2 linked regions of the Homo sapiens genome follow. The protein of the gene in region 1 purifies or fractionates together with the protein of each later gene. This does not show direct contact. Each region holds a gene or a part of one and is shown in the gene's direction. Other genes may lie near its edges.

Region 1 (3,826 bases):
GAAAAGAGATGTCAAAGTTTATGATTTGCCATATGTTGGCCCAGTGGTTTGATAGAATATATTTCTTCTGGGTAGGTTATCTTGTGGGAACCTCTGGCCAAAGTGAAAAGGCTGTCATATTTTATAGCTCCCTCCAGCCCTTGAAGTAGTAACCAGAGGAATATCCTTTATCAAAAACTTAATTTTAAGACTACACTTTCAGAGATTATTTCTATAGTTTGTTACTAGATAGAGAAGTTTCTCTGAATGTGTAGAACACCAGGGGGAAAGAAAACCTTAATTTTAAAAATGTTCAAGATACTTTGAAATGCCTGTCAGTTTGGTTAACGTTAATAGAAGGTACAGTTGACCCTTGAGCAATGTGGGGGTTAGGGGTGCTGGTTCTGCAGGCAGTCAGAAGTTTGCATATAACTTTTGACTCCCCAACAACTTAACTACTAATAGCCTACTGTTGACTGGAAGTCTTACTGATAACATAATTATCAGTTAACACATATTTTGGGTGTTAAATGTATTATATCCTGTATTCTTACAATAAAGAAAAGGAAATGTTATCAAGAAAATTATAAGGAAGAGAAAATAATTGACTCTTCATTAATTGGAAGTGGATTATCATAAAGGTCTTCATCTTCATAGTTTTCATGTTGAGTGGGCTGAAAAGGAGGGATTGTCTTACTGTCTGGGAGTGGCAGAGGCAGAAGTATATTCAAGTATAAGTGGATCCACACAGTTTAATCCTGTGTTCAGGGTCAACTATATAAAACAAGTGCCAGGAAAATATCTATTGTAAAAACCTTTCTTTATCCTAGCAGTTTATACAGGGATCTCTAGATACTTAGTTTTTGTAAGCAAGTAAATTTATTTTCCTAACATTGTCCTAACAGACTTCCTACAAACTAAATTGAAAAGAAATAGGAAAGCTTTTTTTCTCTTTTTTTAAGCACATTAAAATGAAATTCTGCTCTTTGTTTTGTTATGCACATGGGAATACATTCATTCATTTTCCCAACAATTACAGACTACCTACTACTGTGCTGGATCCTGGGTGGTCATATAGATCAATAATACATGTTTGAAGCTATTATGTAATGGAGGAAACCAGATAATAGCAATACAGAATTGTAATTGCTGTGAGAAAGCCATGCACATAGTGCTGTGGAATCACAGAGGGCAGCTAACTCTGGTTTAGCAGTGCAAGAAAGCTTCCCCAAAATAGAATTGATCTGAATCTCAAAGGATGAGAAGGAGTTAGCCAGACTACAACAGTAGGTTTGGGGATAGGAAGAGGTCATGTAAAACACTGAGACCTATTTAAATAAAGCATTTGTATAATATCTCATTAATCGAGATTTCCCAATTTGTAATTTGTCATAGAAAATAGTCTGCAATTTCTCTTGTTTCATGCAAATATATTAAGTCCTCACTTAACATCCCTTGTGGTTCTTGGAAACTAACCTTTGGCAAACTGACAATAAAGTTGTTTCACTGTAACACTGATAAGGAGGAAAATTGTTTTCATTATAGGTTGTTTCAACTAAAATCAGTTAAAATCGAAGTTTCCAAGAACCTATCATTGAAAATTAAGTGAGGACTTAAAAGATTTGTTAAGGATATGTAAGGTAAGTGTTAGTTTAGGGGCCATATTCAACTTAGTAGAATGAAACTTATTCAAGTACTTAGGAAGAACATCCTAATATAAAATATATGGAAGTTGACTAACTAGTAAATAGGTTGTTCAGCATAGATTAAATTCTCTTTTTTTTGTTGTTGTTGTTTTGAGACAGTCTCACTGCAACCTCTGCCTCCCGGGTTCAAGCAGTTCTCTGCCTCAGCCTCCCAAGTAGCTGGGATTACAGGCACCTGCCACCATGACTGGCTAATTTTTGTATTTTTAGTAGAGTCAGGGCTTCACCGTTTGAACTCCTGACCTCGTGATCCACCCTCCTTTGCCTCCCAAAGTGCTGGGATTACAGGCATGAGCCACTGCGCCTGGCCCATAGATTAAATTCTTTGTGAGGCCAAGATTGTAGCTTTGATCTTCATATGGGGTGTTTAGAGGTATTCCATTTTGTGGCCACAAAGTATATTTGTAATCCTAGCCGGCTATCATGAATATTTTATTGGTCACAGGAAGAACCAGCTAAGAACATATGAATAGATCAGTGCAATACTGTCATCATCCTGGAATAACTTGATGCTGTTATATTAAAATCTTGTTAATGGCTGTCAGTTTTGCAACCTAAACTAGTAACACACTGAATTATTGATTTGCTTATGTGTTAATGGCACATAAAGCAATGAGCATTAACACTTGAAGTTTTTCGGTAGTATCATTTTTGTGTATGGAGACTGTATCTGCCATTTTTTCACAATAGGAAGGTTTGTTACTGTATCTTCACAGATGATTGGTTAAGATTGCTTTCCAAAGTCACATTTATTCTCACCTTCACATGGTGTTTTAATGAGCACTTATGAAACTAAATATGAACCATAAAGAGTGGATTGGACTGATTAAATTGAGAGTAATTATGCAGTTTAATCAGTTGGTAATATTGAATCATATGTATTTTTATGTTTAGAGTACAGGATTGTTTTAAATTGTTCTTTTTGACAAGTTGAGATTAGTAGTTTATTGTCAAATAGTAAAGAGATAGCTAATGATTGTGATATACTGTAATAAGATCTATCACTTTATATGATACATTATAAGTTTCAATTATTTCATTTTTGTCAGGCTAAATCTCATTTGCTTTCTCTCCATGAGATATACTTGAGGCAGCAGAAAGAGCAGGTGGGAAGTTAAAGCAACTCATTTAACTGGCCTTTAGGAAAGAAAATGTTTAGATTGACTCAATTTTCTAGTTATCTATTCATCTTATTTAAAATTCCAACCTGCTCTACTCCTTACTCAGGTCTGTTTTGTTTTAATCACACTTAGTACTTTCTAACATAGTATAAATAGTGATTACGTTTGCCTGTCTCCCTTCCCCATTCCTACCCTTGCTAGAATGTAAGGTCCTTAAAGGCAGAGATTCTAATTTAATCTTTTGTCTTCACTGTGTCCCAGAAGCCTAGAATAGTTTTCAGCACATAGTAGATACCCAATAAGGTTAAATTAGTGGTCTCAAATGCTAATACATTTTCAACCTTCTTATAGAAAGAACATACTGGTCGTCTTGTTATAGGAGATCACAAATCAACATCTCACTTCCGAACCGGTAAGAAAGTAAAGTGTAATTAAAATGGAAGTGCTAAATTCAGAATATGAAGTATGTGTTCATGTTTCAGGATATTCTACTTTGGCATGTAATTGTGTAAATTATTAAAATATTATAATTAGAGCTGGGTGCAGTGGCTTAATGCCTGTAATCCCGGTTATTTGGGAGGTTAAAGTGGGAGGATCACTTAAGCCCAGGAGTTTGAGGCTGCAATGAAGCTATGATTGCACCACTGCATTCCAGCCTGGGCTACAGAGCAAGACCTCATCTCTTAAATTTAAAAAAAAAAAGGAGAGAAAAAAATGCTGGGCACCTTGGCTTATGCTTGTAATCCCAGCATTTTGGGAGGCTGAGGTGGGCCGATCACTTGAGGCAAATCACCAGCCTGGTCAACATGGCAAAACCGTGTCTCTACTAAAAAAAAAAAAAAAAAAAAAATTAGCCTGGTGTGGTGGCTCACACCTGTAATCCCAGCTGCTTGGGAGGCTGAGGCACGATAATTGCCTGAACCAGAGAGGCGGAGGTTGCAGTGAGCCAAGATAGCACCATTGCACTCCAGCCTGAGTGACAGAGTGCAACTCTGTCTCCAAAAAAAAAAATTAGAAATG
Region 2 (3,826 bases), on another chromosome or scaffold:
AGACACGTACTCTCATATGGAGGGTGTGGCCTCAGTGTCCACAGCCTCAGTGGCTACGAGCTCATTTCCAGAGCCAACAACAGATGATGTGTCTCCATCTCTGCATGCTGAGGTTGGCTCCCCACATTCCACAGAAGTAGATGACTCCCTTTCAGTGTCTGTTGTGCAAACACCTACCACATTCCAGGAAACAGAAATGTCTCCATCTAAAGAAGAATGCCCAAGACCGATGTCAATTTCTCCACCAGATTTCTCCCCTAAAACTGCAAAGTCCAGGACACCCGTTCAAGATCACAGATCTGAACAGTCCTCAATGTCTATTGAATTTGGCCAAGAATCTCCTGAGCAATCCCTTGCTATGGACTTCAGTCGACAGTCTCCAGATCACCCTACAGTGGGTGCAGGCGTGCTTCACATCACTGAAAATGGGCCAACTGAAGTGGACTACAGTCCTTCTGACATGCAGGACTCCAGTTTATCACATAAGATACCACCTATGGAGGAGCCGTCCTACACCCAAGATAATGATCTTTCTGAGCTCATCTCAGTATCTCAGGTAGAGGCCTCCCCGTCCACCTCTTCTGCTCATACCCCTTCTCAGATCGCTTCTCCTCTCCAAGAAGATACTCTATCCGATGTTGCTCCTCCCAGAGATATGTCCTTATATGCCTCACTCACCTCTGAAAAAGTGCAAAGTCTGGAAGGAGAGAAGCTCTCTCCAAAATCTGATATCTCTCCACTCACCCCACGAGAGTCCTCTCCTTTATATTCACCTACTTTTTCAGATTCTACCTCTGCAGTCAAAGAGAAAACAGCAACTTGCCACAGTTCCTCTTCTCCACCAATAGATGCAGCATCCGCAGAGCCCTATGGCTTCCGTGCCTCAGTGTTATTCGATACAATGCAACACCATCTAGCCTTGAATAGAGATTTGTCCACACCTGGCCTGGAGAAGGACAGTGGAGGGAAGACACCTGGTGACTTTAGCTATGCCTATCAAAAGCCTGAGGAAACAACCAGGTCCCCAGATGAAGAAGATTATGACTATGAGTCTTATGAGAAGACCACCCGGACCTCAGATGTGGGTGGCTATTACTATGAGAAGATAGAGAGAACCACAAAATCTCCAAGTGACAGTGGCTACTCCTATGAGACCATTGGGAAAACTACCAAGACCCCTGAAGATGGTGACTATTCCTATGAAATTATTGAGAAGACCACACGGACCCCTGAAGAGGGTGGGTACTCATATGACATAAGTGAAAAGACCACCAGCCCCCCCGAAGTGAGTGGTTACAGCTATGAAAAGACTGAGAGGTCTAGAAGGCTTCTGGATGACATCAGCAATGGCTATGATGACTCTGAGGATGGTGGCCACACACTTGGGGACCCCAGCTACTCTTATGAAACCACTGAGAAAATTACCAGTTTCCCTGAGTCTGAAGGTTATTCCTATGAGACATCTACAAAGACAACACGAACCCCTGATACTTCCACATACTGTTACGAGACTGCAGAGAAAATCACTAGAACCCCTCAGGCATCCACATATTCCTACGAGACTTCAGACCTATGCTACACTGCAGAAAAGAAGTCCCCCTCAGAAGCCCGTCAGGATGTCGATTTATGCCTCGTGTCCTCTTGTGAATACAAGCACCCCAAGACAGAGCTTTCACCCTCTTTCATTAATCCCAATCCTCTTGAGTGGTTTGCCAGTGAAGAACCCACTGAAGAATCTGAAAAGCCCCTCACTCAATCAGGGGGAGCCCCACCGCCTCCAGGAGGAAAGCAACAGGGCCGACAGTGTGATGAAACCCCTCCCACCTCAGTCAGCGAGTCAGCCCCATCCCAGACCGACTCTGATGTTCCCCCGGAGACTGAAGAGTGCCCCTCCATCACGGCCGATGCCAATATCGACTCTGAAGACGAGTCGGAAACCATCCCCACAGACAAAACTGTCACGTACAAACACATGGACCCACCTCCAGCTCCCGTGCAAGACCGCAGCCCTTCGCCACGCCACCCTGATGTGTCCATGGTGGACCCAGAGGCCTTGGCCATTGAGCAGAACCTGGGCAAAGCTCTAAAGAAAGATCTGAAAGAGAAGACCAAAACCAAAAAGCCAGGTACAAAGACCAAGTCATCTTCACCTGTCAAAAAGAGTGATGGGAAGTCTAAGCCCTTGGCAGCTTCACCAAAACCAGCGGGCTTGAAAGAATCCTCGGATAAAGTGTCCAGGGTGGCTTCTCCTAAGAAGAAAGAATCTGTGGAAAAGGCAGCAAAACCCACCACCACTCCTGAGGTCAAAGCTGCACGTGGGGAAGAGAAAGACAAGGAGACCAAGAATGCTGCCAATGCCTCTGCATCCAAGTCGGCCAAGACCGCCACTGCAGGTAGGTTGAGAAGGCTGGGCATTGGATATATGTCACAACCATTCTACTTGCGTTTACAGCCTTTATATTTCCCTGTTTGGCTTTGTACTGGGAAGATGAGGGAGCACAATTGATGCTTTACCTTCCCTGTACTCTTCTCCTCTGCCCAAAGGTATATATCTCAGTCCAGTGTGGCCTTAAGGCTTGGAAATAGCTCAGTGTATGGTTCAAAGCAGCTGTGATTCATCACTGGGATTCCTGATTTTGTGCCGTTTTCGAACACAGCAACTACAGCCCTGTTCTAAATCTTCAGAACCAAGGATGTGTCTTTCAGGTGCTTCTGGAAGACTGGTTTCAGCCATACTGGCCTCAGAATCCAGCAGGGTAACACAGGCCAGGAGCTCCCAAAGGCCTAAGGAGAACCAGAGGTTTCACATCAAGACTGGATCAACCAGTCTAGACCCAAGATTTAGAGTCCTTTTTTAAAAAAAATTTTTTTTAAATTAAAAATGTTTACATTTTTATTTAAAACATCACCAGGTTGGAGATAAATCCTCATTAAAGGCAGTGTTCCATTTTCTTATCAGCCAAAAAATACTATAATTTCAGTTGACCAGTGAGTGTCCGGTGAAAATTGAGAGAAAAACATTGATGGCTCTGCTCTTACCCTTCTCTTACCCCATGGCCTCATTAGTAGAGACTCAATGCTATTTCAGATTAAAATTCCACTGGGAAGCTAGATGCATGGCCTCATGCCTGTAATTTCAGCACTTTGGGAGGCTGAGATGGAAGGTTAGCTTCAGCCCAGGAAGTTGAGACCAGCCTGTGCAACATAGCAAGACCCTGTCTCCACAAAAAAAAAAAAATGTTTTTTAATTAGCTGGGTGTGGTGGCACGTGCTTATAGTCTTAGCTACTTGGGAGGCTGAGGCAGGAGGATCACTTCAGCCCAAGAGATCAAGGCTGCAGTGAGCCAGAATTGTATGTATCACTGCATGCCAAGCCTGGGTGACAGAGCAAGACCCTGTCTCTCAAAAATAAATAAATAAGCAAATGAAATGCCACTTGGCAAGAGCAGGTATCCCTGATTTTTGATCATTCATGTTTTTGGTCATGATTCTCAGATTTATCAGGTTCTCAGCAATGACCTGGGCTTTTGATGGAACTGGTCTATGGCAGTACTGCTTCATTTTGTTGCTTCACATCAATCACAAGGATTGGCATTCATACATTTTATTTGCTTTAGGTAATTATTCAGAGATTTTTAGATCACAATTCACAAAGTAATGTAAATGGACCCAAACATGTAAGGCACAACATAATTTAAATAACATTGCCCTGATTTATTAGGGAAAATCTGATAGAGTAATCTTTGGAGCTCTCCAATTAAGTACACTTTAGGATACATTTGTTAAAACTGCAAATTTTTACTTTAAACAATATGGAGTATCAATT

Evidence for each region.
Region 2: the proteins of C11orf58 (region 1) and MAP1B fractionate together in Homo sapiens (co-fractionation; one large-scale study listed by BioGRID). This does not show direct contact.

Annotation. Positions count from the first base shown.
Region 1 is NC_000011.10:16,744,940-16,748,765, forward strand, and holds part of C11orf58 (small acidic protein), read left to right. Parts: intron 1-3,157; coding exon 3,158-3,218; intron 3,219-3,826.
Region 2 is NC_000005.10:72,197,975-72,201,800, forward strand, and holds part of MAP1B (microtubule-associated protein 1B), read left to right. Parts: coding exon 1-2,393; intron 2,394-3,826. UniProt on the Homo sapiens protein: Facilitates tyrosination of alpha-tubulin in neuronal microtubules. Phosphorylated MAP1B is required for proper microtubule dynamics and plays a role in the cytoskeletal changes that accompany neuronal differentiation and neurite extension.